2 separate regions of the Homo sapiens genome follow, and region 1 is linked to region 2. The links come from fine-mapping of genetic effects on gene expression. A gene starts in region 2. The other region holds a variant in brackets. All regions are shown on one strand. Distances are between the middles of the regions. Region 1 overlaps NGDN (neuroguidin). Region 2 holds the start of DAD1 (defender against cell death 1).

Region 1 (5,380 bases), 890 kb after region 2:
TAGGATGTGACTTTCATGCTTTCAGCAAAATGTATGTGGGGCTTATTACCATGAGGAACTTGGGAAGGGATGCTGGCTCTCAGAACCACAGTGCCATTCCATCACTTCTCCATCTGTCTCCAGGATCAGAATCCTATTAAGAAGCGGAAGAAGATACCTCAGAAAGGTCGGAAGAAAAAAGGTCAGTGAACTGCTGGGACTTAGGTGATCAGGTGCAAGGTGGGGAGTACAAATTGAGTCTCTTTGGATTTGCCATTCTGGGTCTCACCAAGCCCTGTAGTATCTCTTCCATACTGGGCAATAATCTCCTTAGGTGGGCTTTTATTTTTTGCTTTCCTGAGCTGGAAATCAGCATCATTCACAAAATGAATCTCTGGATTCTGCCTCTAAGGTCCCACAGCTCCTGTTCAGGCTTCCCTAAATAGAACTGGTAAAGTGTCACTTGAAGGAACCATTATCCCATTTCAATTTTATTCCTACTTCTCGTCTTTTGTCCTGGGAAGATATTCAGGGTACTGCCTAGGAGACCCCACCCCTGTGAGCCCTTCCCTCTAGATGTCCTGTTTTCCTGTCCCTTTAGCTTTTCCAACTGTCCTTTGCCTCATTCTTGGTTTCCCTTCCTTTCAGGTTTTCGGAGGCGGCGGTGATTATGGGTGTACATATTTGTATATTTTTTGTCATCCTGAGATACTTCTAATTTCATTGTATATAGGTGGTTTTCCCTGGAATTCATTAATTGTTTGCTTTGGACATGTGGAAAGAGCCTTACTAATAAAATTGATTTTGCTTATGAATTAAAGCCCCTTTTTGCACATGTATTGTACGACTGGAGTCGTTGGGTTTGGGATATTTTTGGTGAGTGGTTGGTGAAAAGGGAAATTTTTTTTGGAAGTGCAAAACATTTGTATTGTTTTCTTTGATAATATATTTTTCCCAAAAACTAAAAATTGGTTACGTCACAAAAAGTATTGAGAGACGAGGCTGGTATAATCAACTCTTTCAACCCATGTTGCCACAACTTCCTGTATGATTTGTTATAATACAATACAGATTGAGATATTAACACATGAATTTTAGGTTTTATTAGTGTTATCTGGGCTGGCCACCAGGTGGCATAAGTGGTTCAAGAAACTTGAGCTTGGCTGTAATCAAAAGCAAGATAGAACCTTTCCACATCAGCAAGATTATTCTTATCTCCACTTCTCTGAATGTTTTTCATTTCTTTCTGAAATAGCATGAACATAAGGCTGATCTTTGGTCAGTTACTGAGGGAGTTTGTAGAAAATAGTAGAGTGAGTAAGAAGGCTAGAGTGAAGAGTCAGTATAGTCTTGTGTTTTTCAGACTCTGACCCCCACCCCCCCGCCTTCAACTGAGGGTCATTTTACCAGAGTCAATAAAGGCCAACCCTTCTATAAAGAGCTGGCAAAAAAAAAAAAAAAAAAAAAATGCCAGCAGACAAGCAGAACATTCCTAGCTTAACAGCCAAACAAATGAAAATCCCACAGAAATAATTAGCCAAACTCAAGCCAGGAGACTGGTGGGCGTTATACATCTGAGATCTTGTATTCTAATGAGAGAATAACCTCTGTTGGTGAGATGTCCCACAGGCCTTGGATAATACAGAAAGTGAAAAAAGGGATTAAAAAAAGATAGAAGTTGGGTCTGTAGAATTAATTCATTGGAGTTTTTAAAAAAGGCTTTGGGTCTCATGAACATCTGATTTTAATGTCTAGTATTGCTGGGTTATATCGATAGACAAATTAATTTGGGTTATATGACTAAAACCTCGTTGATTCTGAATTTCTGAATTTGGATTTATACTATTCAGCCTGATTGGGGCAGGGGTCTTTCACTCAGCTGCCGCTTGGTAGAAAGTAGTTAGGAGACTGGACCTATGGCTGTCTTAGGCTAATTCTGTGATCTTGGGCAAATCACTTAATATCCCTGGCCTTTAATTTTCCTCAGCTAAGGAATGTATTAGACTTCATCTGTGAGATTCCCTTCAAGTCAAAGAGCCTAGAGCTTTTGTGCATGACACCAAGATGGGCTTATGTCTGGGGCCGCTAACCTTTAGTCCCTGATAGATCTGAGAGAGTCTCACATGCCCTGGGCTCTCATACTTCTGTTTCCTCAAGGGAATCTAAACAAAGAGCCACAAGAACAGATTTAGAGACTTTTTTTCCTTTATGGCTGAACTAACTAGATGAGTGATTCAGTTCAAAAATACTTTAGTTAAAACCACTTCATTTGCTTGTTAGGACCACTATATTTGTTTCTAATTTATTAAGATTTGTGGATTATGGGAACTTCCAGGGGAAGGGAAGTGCTCTTTAAAAAACAAAACAAAACAAAACAAAACAAAACAGGTACTACCTTCTGGCCAGGTGTGGTGGCTCATATCTATAATCTGGACACTTTGGGAGGCTGGGTCAGGAGGATAGTTTGAGGCCAGAGAGTTCAAGACCAGCATGTTTAACACAACAAGACCCTGTCTCTAAAAAAAAATAAAAATAAAAAAATTAGGCAGGTGTGGTGGCGTGTGTCTGTAGTCCCAGCTGCTTGGGAGACTGAGGCAGGGGTATTGCCTAAGCCCTGGAGTTTGAGCTTGCTGTGAGCTATGATCTTACCACTGCATTCCAGACTGAATGATAGTAAGACCCATCAAAAAAAAAAAAAAAATTCCTGTGCTATAGGCTGAGCTAAGTGCTTTATACTTAATCCTTATAAATTTTTTTTTTTTTTTTTGAGATGGAGTCTCACTCTGTTGCCCAGGCTGGAGTGCAGTGGCGTGATCTCCGCTGACTGCAACCTCTGCCTCCTGGGTTCAAGCGATTCTCCTGTCTCAGCCTCCTGAGTAGCTGGGACTATAGCCACGTGCCACCAC[A/T]CCTGGCTAATTTTTTGTATTTTAGTGGAGACAGGGTTTCACTGTGTTAGCCGGGATAGTCTCAATCTCCTGACCTCGTGATCCACCCACCTTGGCCTCCCAAAGTGCTGGGATTACAGGTATGAGCCACCACGCCTGGCAATCCTTATAAAATTTATGAAATCTCCATTTTACTAGTGAGGAAGCTTAGACACTTAGGGCAAACAATTTTTCCTGAGTTGGAGAACCAGTGCTTGGGGAACACTGAGGATGGAGGACTTCAAGTGTCCTGTGGTTCATGAAAATCTTCAGGGTTAAAAAATCTTTTTTTATTTGTAGGTGGTTTATAATCTAGCTCCCCCGCCCTACTGCCCCATTTCTGTTACAGGCCTCGTCTTCAAAGAAACCCTAAGTTCCACAATTCTGGTCTCTTTGTGGTATACCAGTGAACACAGCAGACAAAATCCCTGCCTTTGTGGACCTTATATTAATTCAATCAAGTCTTTAATCCCAGGACATTTTGTTTTCCCTGGCTTTTAGGCATTATTTGAAAGAAGTTTCTGGTAAAAAGTTGAACTATTTCTGAGAATATTTGTACCAGAGTCATCAAACACTGTTTAGAGTGTATTGTTTGATGGAGTATTACATGGATTCTCAATATGTAAAACAAGCATAAGTGGGGTTACTTTGATTGAAGTGGGAATGAGGGGTCCTGAAGTTCCATGTTCTTATGACCCCCTTTCCCCAAGATTCCTGAGGAGCCCCCAAGGAACCTTTAGAATTCCTTAGAATATAGTTTGAAAACAACTGTTAGGGTAGTAGAACAAGGGAACTAAGAACTAGAATTTTAGGATTTCGTTATGGCTGTTCTGGTCACTTTTTTTCTTTCCCTTATTCCTACTAATAGATTCAGTTATCTGATTATTCAGACCATATGAATATCGGATTTCCTCAGTGTATTGCTGACAACAGATCATTTCTGGTGTTCACTAAGTAATAGCTGTCATTAATGCACACATGAGCACCTTACCTGTTTGGTTTTATCATGTGATGGTTTTGTCATGTGATAGCTTTATTCTGTAGAAGTAATTTACATCTCTGCCTCATTCTTTTCATCTTAGGGGACAGGGAAGAGAGTTTGACCAAGGTCTGTCTTTGCCTTAAAATCATTGTTTTGTTAGGATTTTATGAAGGCTTGGGGAAATGTCTATTGGGAATTCACAACAGTCTTCATAGATACCTTATTAGGAAAACTGTGTTTTGTTTGCAGGGGAGATTATTAGTGTGTCAATTTTCAGCACCATGGAGAGTTCAAACGCTCCTCATTCCTTGGTTTGGTGAATGGGACACAGCTAAACCATAGAGCTGCGTGGTGTAGACCTGCCCTTTTTCAGAGCCCAGTTTGTCCAGTCTCCAGTTCTGATTGGTACAGATTGGATGAGAGTCAAACACACCCCTGAGTGTCCCCCATCCTCCCTGGAATCTTTTAGGTCCATAAATCCCAGATTCATGCCAAGGATTTGGCTAACTTGATGGAGGTATGTGAGTGGAATCCTGCCTCCTGCTCCATTGGTAACATCATTTATCATTTATATTATGATACATGAAATTTTTACCAGCCCTTAAGAAAAACTCTGTTCCCTACTCATCTTTGCTTAGAGAACCTTGAGGGGACTTAAAGTTGCTTTTTCATTCCTTGGGCCTCGTTTTCTGCCTCTGCATGAGGAAAGGCATCAATGCTCTGGCTCTCTGCCCAGTCTTGCTTTTGTGTTTCTTTGATCTCATTGTTCAGAGGGTCTCAGAGAAGCCCCCAGAGCCATGCCTTTGCATGTTTAAGCTATTGATGCTTTTGAGATGACAGAGCGTCGCTGTGTAAGAAGTGTATTAAAGGTCTATCGTGAACAAACTTGGGTCAATAGGTGGCAGTAGTCACTGAGTCCTGAGGCCCTGACACCCCCTAAACACAAACACATTTGATGGCCATTATATTTAAGGAAGGATGTGAGAAAGGAGGTCACATTGAGATTAAAACGGGGAGAAAAGCAATCCTTTTTGGTGGAATCCAGGAAATGCTGAAATGTGCTGGATTACATCTGTGGGAGTGTTGTGTGGGGTGTAGGGGAAGATTGCTGTCAGCTAGTGAAGGGCACTGATTGGAAACAGCAGAGCCTCAGGATTGGGGGAACAGATTCATTCATCTAAGATGTAGGTGCTAAGGTTTCTTCCAGCTAGAGTAAGCATGTGTTAAATGAGGACCAGCACTGAAAGGACAGAGTGGGGTTGGAGTGAGTAGAGATACAAGTAGGGGAAGGAGGGGCAGAACTGTGTGACGGGACCGTGGAAAGGGTGGGCTGTGAAGGGGAGGACTGCGGTTAGAGGGGGAGGGGGAGGCTGCTGCAATACTGAGCCTATCTAATGGGGGAGGGGAGGGGGAGATATTGGTGTGTGCTGCAGCTGCATTACTTCCCCTCCCCCACACTTCCCAAGAAGCCAGAGCAGTGCTGGCAAATCTGTCT
Region 2 (5,330 bases):
ATCACCTGAGGTCAGGAGTTTGAGACCAGCCTGACCAACATGGAGAAACTCCGTCTCCACTAAAAATACAAAATTCGCCGGGCGTGGTGGCACATGCCTGTAATCCCAGCTACTTCGGAGGCTGAGGCAGGAGAATTGCTTAAACCTGGGAGACAGAGGTTGCAGTGAACCGAGATCGCCATTGCACTCCAGCCTGAGAAAAAAGAGCAAAACTCCATCTCAAAAAAAGTCCAAATTCCTTGGCCTGGCATTCAAACATCTAGCACCCAGCACTACCTAATCCTTCAACAGTATCGCCTACATTTCCCTCTCCCAGCTCACTGGACTCCTCCATTCTCTTGCAACAGGAAATTCCACAGGAAAGTTAGAAACCCCAGCACCATAAAAAGGAACAAGGCTACCTTTGCCAACAATCAAAACAAAGGATAAGCGTCCAAATTTCCCATTAAAACCAGTCTCCAGTTGATGATCTAGGCTAACAAATGGCAGAAGAGGCAGGATTTAGGAAAGTCAATGCTGTCAAAAGAAGGGTAAATCATACCCTTCTGTGGCAACTAAGAATTATCATGAATCCCTTCTTTTCTTGAAGTTGCTTTCATTTCTATAGCTCTATTATCTGTTATCTAACAGATCTGGAAATCCTAATCCCCCTTATTGGCCCCATTACTAATATGCCCTTTTACTAGGTTTTTCTTCAATGACAAGCCACCTAGTTCCCACTGGAGAGGAGAAAGGCAGTCCAGTCTGCCAATTCAATTTCAGCCACAACGGGCTCAAAAACAGGTCTTGGCATAAGTGAAAGTCATTTGCTCAAAAAAACCTTCTGGCTTTATTACACTGATAATCTATAACTCTAGTCCATGCCCACTCTTCAGCAAACCACATTCTTCAAAGCATCCATGAAAAATCATTCTAGACCCTAGAGGCTTATGAAGGCAGGGTGACTTCTACATGGAGAAGGCATCTTTTTTAAAATCAGCTTTCAGACCCTGCCTTGCTCCTACTCTTCCAGACCTGGAAACAAAAACATCAAACAAAATTAAATCAAAAGTTCTCATCAAGGTTCCTTCTCCGGGCTGGCTAATAAAAACATATAGTACCGTGGCAGAGGGCGGTGGGTGGGTGGTGGAGAATACTTAGAGCAAAGGGGTAGTGTATCTGGTCGGATGATGGTTAACACATCCTGAAGGCAAGGACGCCACCACAGACAACTAGGTCTTGGTCATCTAGGACAAAAGTCAAAGATGGTAACTAAATATCCAATCAAAAGGCTAATCTGCAACTTCAGTACACAAGTCATTAGATCCTCAGACCTGTTTTAAATTCTAAGAAATATCTCTGGTGTGTCAGAACAATGTAAATGTACAATAAGCATTCTATAGGTCTGTAACTTTAAGCACAGCACCACTGTCACCAGACTTTTTTTTTTTTTTTTTGAGGCTGAGCCTCACTCTCACCCAAGCTGAAGTGCAATGGCACGATCTCGGCTCACTACAACCTCCACCTCCCGGGTTCAAGCGATTCTGCCTCAGCCTCCCGAGTAGCTGGGATTACAGGTGTGTGCCACCATGCCTGGCTAATTTATGTATTTTCAGTAGAGATGGGGTTTCACCATGTTGGCCAGGCTGGTCTTGAACTCCTGACCTCAAGTGATCTGCCTACCTCGGCCTCCCAAAGTACTGGGATTACAGGCATGAGCCACTGTGCCAGGCCTCCAGACAATTCCAATGCTGTATTTTGTCTGTACCCCAACTAGACCATAAACTCTTTACGGATAAAGAACATGTGCCAAAGCTTTTACCATAATGCCTCATATTGGACTGAAAATACAACTGATGACCTGACTGATGATCACACTGAAAAGAAACCATGAATGCTGGCATGTTTTCAAAGTCAAAGTAGCAGGTGATACCAGTGATAGAGGCCACGCCTGTTTTCAGTATTCACTGAATCCCCGTTGGGCAAGAAAAGTCAGATTTTAACAAAAATTGATGGAGACTGTTCTCGCTAAATATAGCAGTCTACAAGGTTACCAAATCCTGGAATCAAAAGGAAAAATAAGGCTAAAATAGAGTTATGTGAACAAAAATTGGGTTCAGGACAGTGAAATAACAGCTTCCTCAACAAGAAAAAAAGTAGTAGCAGCTAAAAGGCAAAATCAAGTAAAGGATGATTCAACAAGAAAAGCACCAGTATTTATATTCTTTGCACTTTCATTGAAACGTTTCACCGGAGATTGGTAATGATTAGGCCAAGATGACAGAGATGATTCAAGGTTGGGTTTTTCATTTGAAAAGTCTACTAATTTTAGAGTTGTGTTAAACCTAAGTTAAAGTTGGAATAGGGTTTTCCCCGGACCAATATTAAGTGAAGTGGATCACCAAGTGGAGTAGCGGCACGAAGGTGGTTTCTTTAGACTTTTAAGTCCAACTCCTACGGAGCCGTTTGGTATTAGGCATATAATCTAAGCTTTCTGAGCCTCAATTTCCCCATTCACAACAAAAGGGCAATGCAGGCTCTTCTCATAACTTCAAGGGGCGGTGGTCTGATATAGAGTACTATGAAAACAAAAGCAGCACACCAAAGTAACACATTATTATTATGATCACTTATAGAACCATTACCCGCTAGGATGAAACTCCCCACACAAGAGATGAAGCCCGAGAGAAAAGAGTTGAAGGGGAAGGTCCCCACGAGGAGACAGTAACCGAACTGCAGCGCCCCGGTCAGCAGTATATACAGCAGGTACGCGTCCAGCAACTTCAGACGCTGCGGAGTGGAGCTCAAGTACTCTTCTAAGAACCGCGAAATGACAGACACTACCGACGCCGACATAACTGCACGCAAGGTACTCCGGTCCGCGCCCCAAACTCTTGGAGGACCCGTCGACCACACCGGATGTGCTGTTTGCGCATGCGCACCCTCGTGACCTAACTCCGCCCTCCCCGGTGTGCCAATTTGCGCAGGCGCTGAGGCCGGCCAGGGCGCGTAACAACTAATGCGCAGACGCGGACTGCATCAACAGACTCAACTACAACTCAGAAAAGTTAATGCGTCTGCGCAATGGCCCTATCAATGAGCTGGGGACGTGTACTCTTTCTGTTCTGTTTCCGCCCGTCAGCTCGGTGACGCCCACAGTTGCTCTGGCAACAAGACACACTGGGAGGAAGAGGGGAATAAGCTTTACTGGGGACCGCGTAGCTAACCAGAGGTATCCGGCTCTCTCTGGTCCTTCTGAGTCCTGGAAGATTTAACGGTTTGCATCTACTTTGAGGCAATGCCTGGCGTTCCTGGGGTTTGATACCAGCCTGACCCTAATTCTGTTAAGGGCGCTGTCTGCAGATGTCTGTCACAGATCATTGGAACAAGTCAAGTTCATCCGCAGTGAGACCCGGCGCGGCCAATCACTGCACAGGCCCCAGTTTAGACTTAATTACTTGGGGGAGTGAGTGGGTGTGGTGAGGGGCGGGAGGCAGGGAGGAAGCCTGACCTCAGCAGGGTTCTGAACTGGAACTCGGGATCTGGCCCTGCAATGCCAACATTTATTGGGCGCCTCCTTGGGGCCTGACGTTGTACTAACTTGTAGGGACTCTCACGTGAATCAGATATATTTGCAGCCTTAAAAGAGCTGGTGAAGGGAGGGACAGCTGTCGAATGTCGTGCAAAAAGCATATGGTCAAGTTTAGCAGCTCTCTTTCCGCAAGCTGGTATCTTGAACCTGGTGTAATATCCCGGGATGTCAGCGTCGAAAGGCCCGAAAGAGCATGCCTGGTTCAACCCTACTCTCTCCAACTCATTTTGCAGAAGAAACTGAAATGGTTTCAGGTTTTGTATTTTAACAAGTGGGATTATTTTGAGGGTTTTAACTGTTTTTTTTTTTTTTTTTGAGACGGAGCCTTGCTCTGTCGGCCAGGCTGGAGTGCAGTGTCGCGATCTCGGCCCACTGCAACCTCCGCCTCCCTAGTAGCTGGGACTACAGGCACGCGCCACCACGCCCGGCTAATTTTTGTATTTTCAGTAGAGACGGAGTTTCACCATTGTTAGCCAGGCTGGTCCCGAACTCCTGACCTTGTGATCCGCCAGCCTCGGCCTCCCAAAGTGCTGGGATTACAGGCATGAGCCACTGCACCCGGCCTGTTTTAACTTTTTTTAAGAAATTAAGTTCTGGCTTTCGTTGCCCTTTTAATTTCACGTGAATCCGACCTTCTAGACCCAGTTCATCTCACCTTTTAGCTGTAAGTTTTTCCACACATGACCAGGTACTTTATTTTCAGCTTCTTAATATTTTGAACTGTACGTGAGCAAAATTCCTAAAACAGCAGGTGAACAACAGCGTTCCTGCCTTTTCACTTTTTTTTTTTTTTTTTTTTGAGATGAAGTTTTGCTCTTGTCACCCAGGCTGGAGTGCAGTGAATGGTGCGATCTCGGCTCACTGCAACCTCCACCTCCTGGGTTCAAGCCATTCTCCTGCCTCAGCCTCCCGAGTAGCTGGGATTAGAGGCACCTGCCACCACGCCCGGCTAATTTTTGTATTTTTAGTAGAAACGGGGTTTCGCCATGTTGGCCAAGCTGATCTTGAACTCCTGACCTCAGGTGATCTGCCTGCTTCAGCCTCCCAAAGTGCTGGGATTATAGGAGTGAGCCACTGCGCCGGCCCCTTTTCACTTTTTATTTGCCTTTAGACTGGAAACTCTACACGCATTAACTAACGGATGTATTATCAGTGGTGATCAAAGCCTTACTTAAGTTCTAGAAAGAAGAGAAATAACCTAAGAAACCTTTAGAGTCTATTTGAATAGATAGATTTATATTCATACCCGTGGAGATTTGTGCAGCTATATGAACATAAGTTCAGCCTAAACCTATGTTGCTGAGAAAGAAAAAAAAAGAGTGGATAACAAGCTGGTTCTTATTTCAATATAATATGGCAGGAAGCATCAATTTCTCTGACAAGTTGAACCTTTCTCTCTGCCTCATCAACAAGTAGGAGGGTAGCTTCCTCACGAATATTCAACTTCAAACTTTACAGGCTAGGCTGATGCTTTTTAATCATTCAGGTGTGGATTCTTCAGGGAGTTTCTGTTCCATCAGCCAGGCTCCTTCCAGTGTTTTCTCCCTTATGTTTTGTCTGCCTTTGATCCATGTCAACTATCATCATTAAGATCTCCCCAGGAACTCTCACAGGAGAGAAGAAGAGATGAAAAACACCAAATGGACTTATTGAATGCATTTGTTTCTGAGACCTGCTAGTCACACCAATATACTACACTAGGGCTTTTCTGAACTACTTAAAACAGCAAGAAAAGGCCTACTTCTCTATTCGGTTTATG

Evidence for each region. PIP is the estimated chance that this variant, and not a neighbour inherited with it, causes the effect.
Region 1: its variant is the best candidate, but not a certain one, in a credible set for the expression of DAD1 in follicular helper T cells (Schmiedel 2018, PIP 0.76).

The regions. Positions count from the first base shown.
Region 1 is chr14:23,477,380-23,482,759 of GRCh38, forward strand. NGDN (neuroguidin) reads left to right here. Exons shown (of 11, transcript NM_001042635.2): 10 at 124-181; 11 at 628-794. The coding sequence ends at 647. Among named protein-coding and RNA genes, the nearest start is that of NGDN, 10 kb to the left of the region's middle. RefSeq lists an enhancer at 4,692-5,380. The variant A/T (reference allele first, on the strand shown) is at 2,886.
Region 2 is chr14:22,586,323-22,591,652 of GRCh38, forward strand. DAD1 (defender against cell death 1) reads right to left here and starts at 2,902. Exons shown (of 3, transcript NM_001344.4): 1 at 2,625-2,902. The coding sequence starts at 2,835. RefSeq lists enhancers at 1,899-2,540, 2,541-3,182.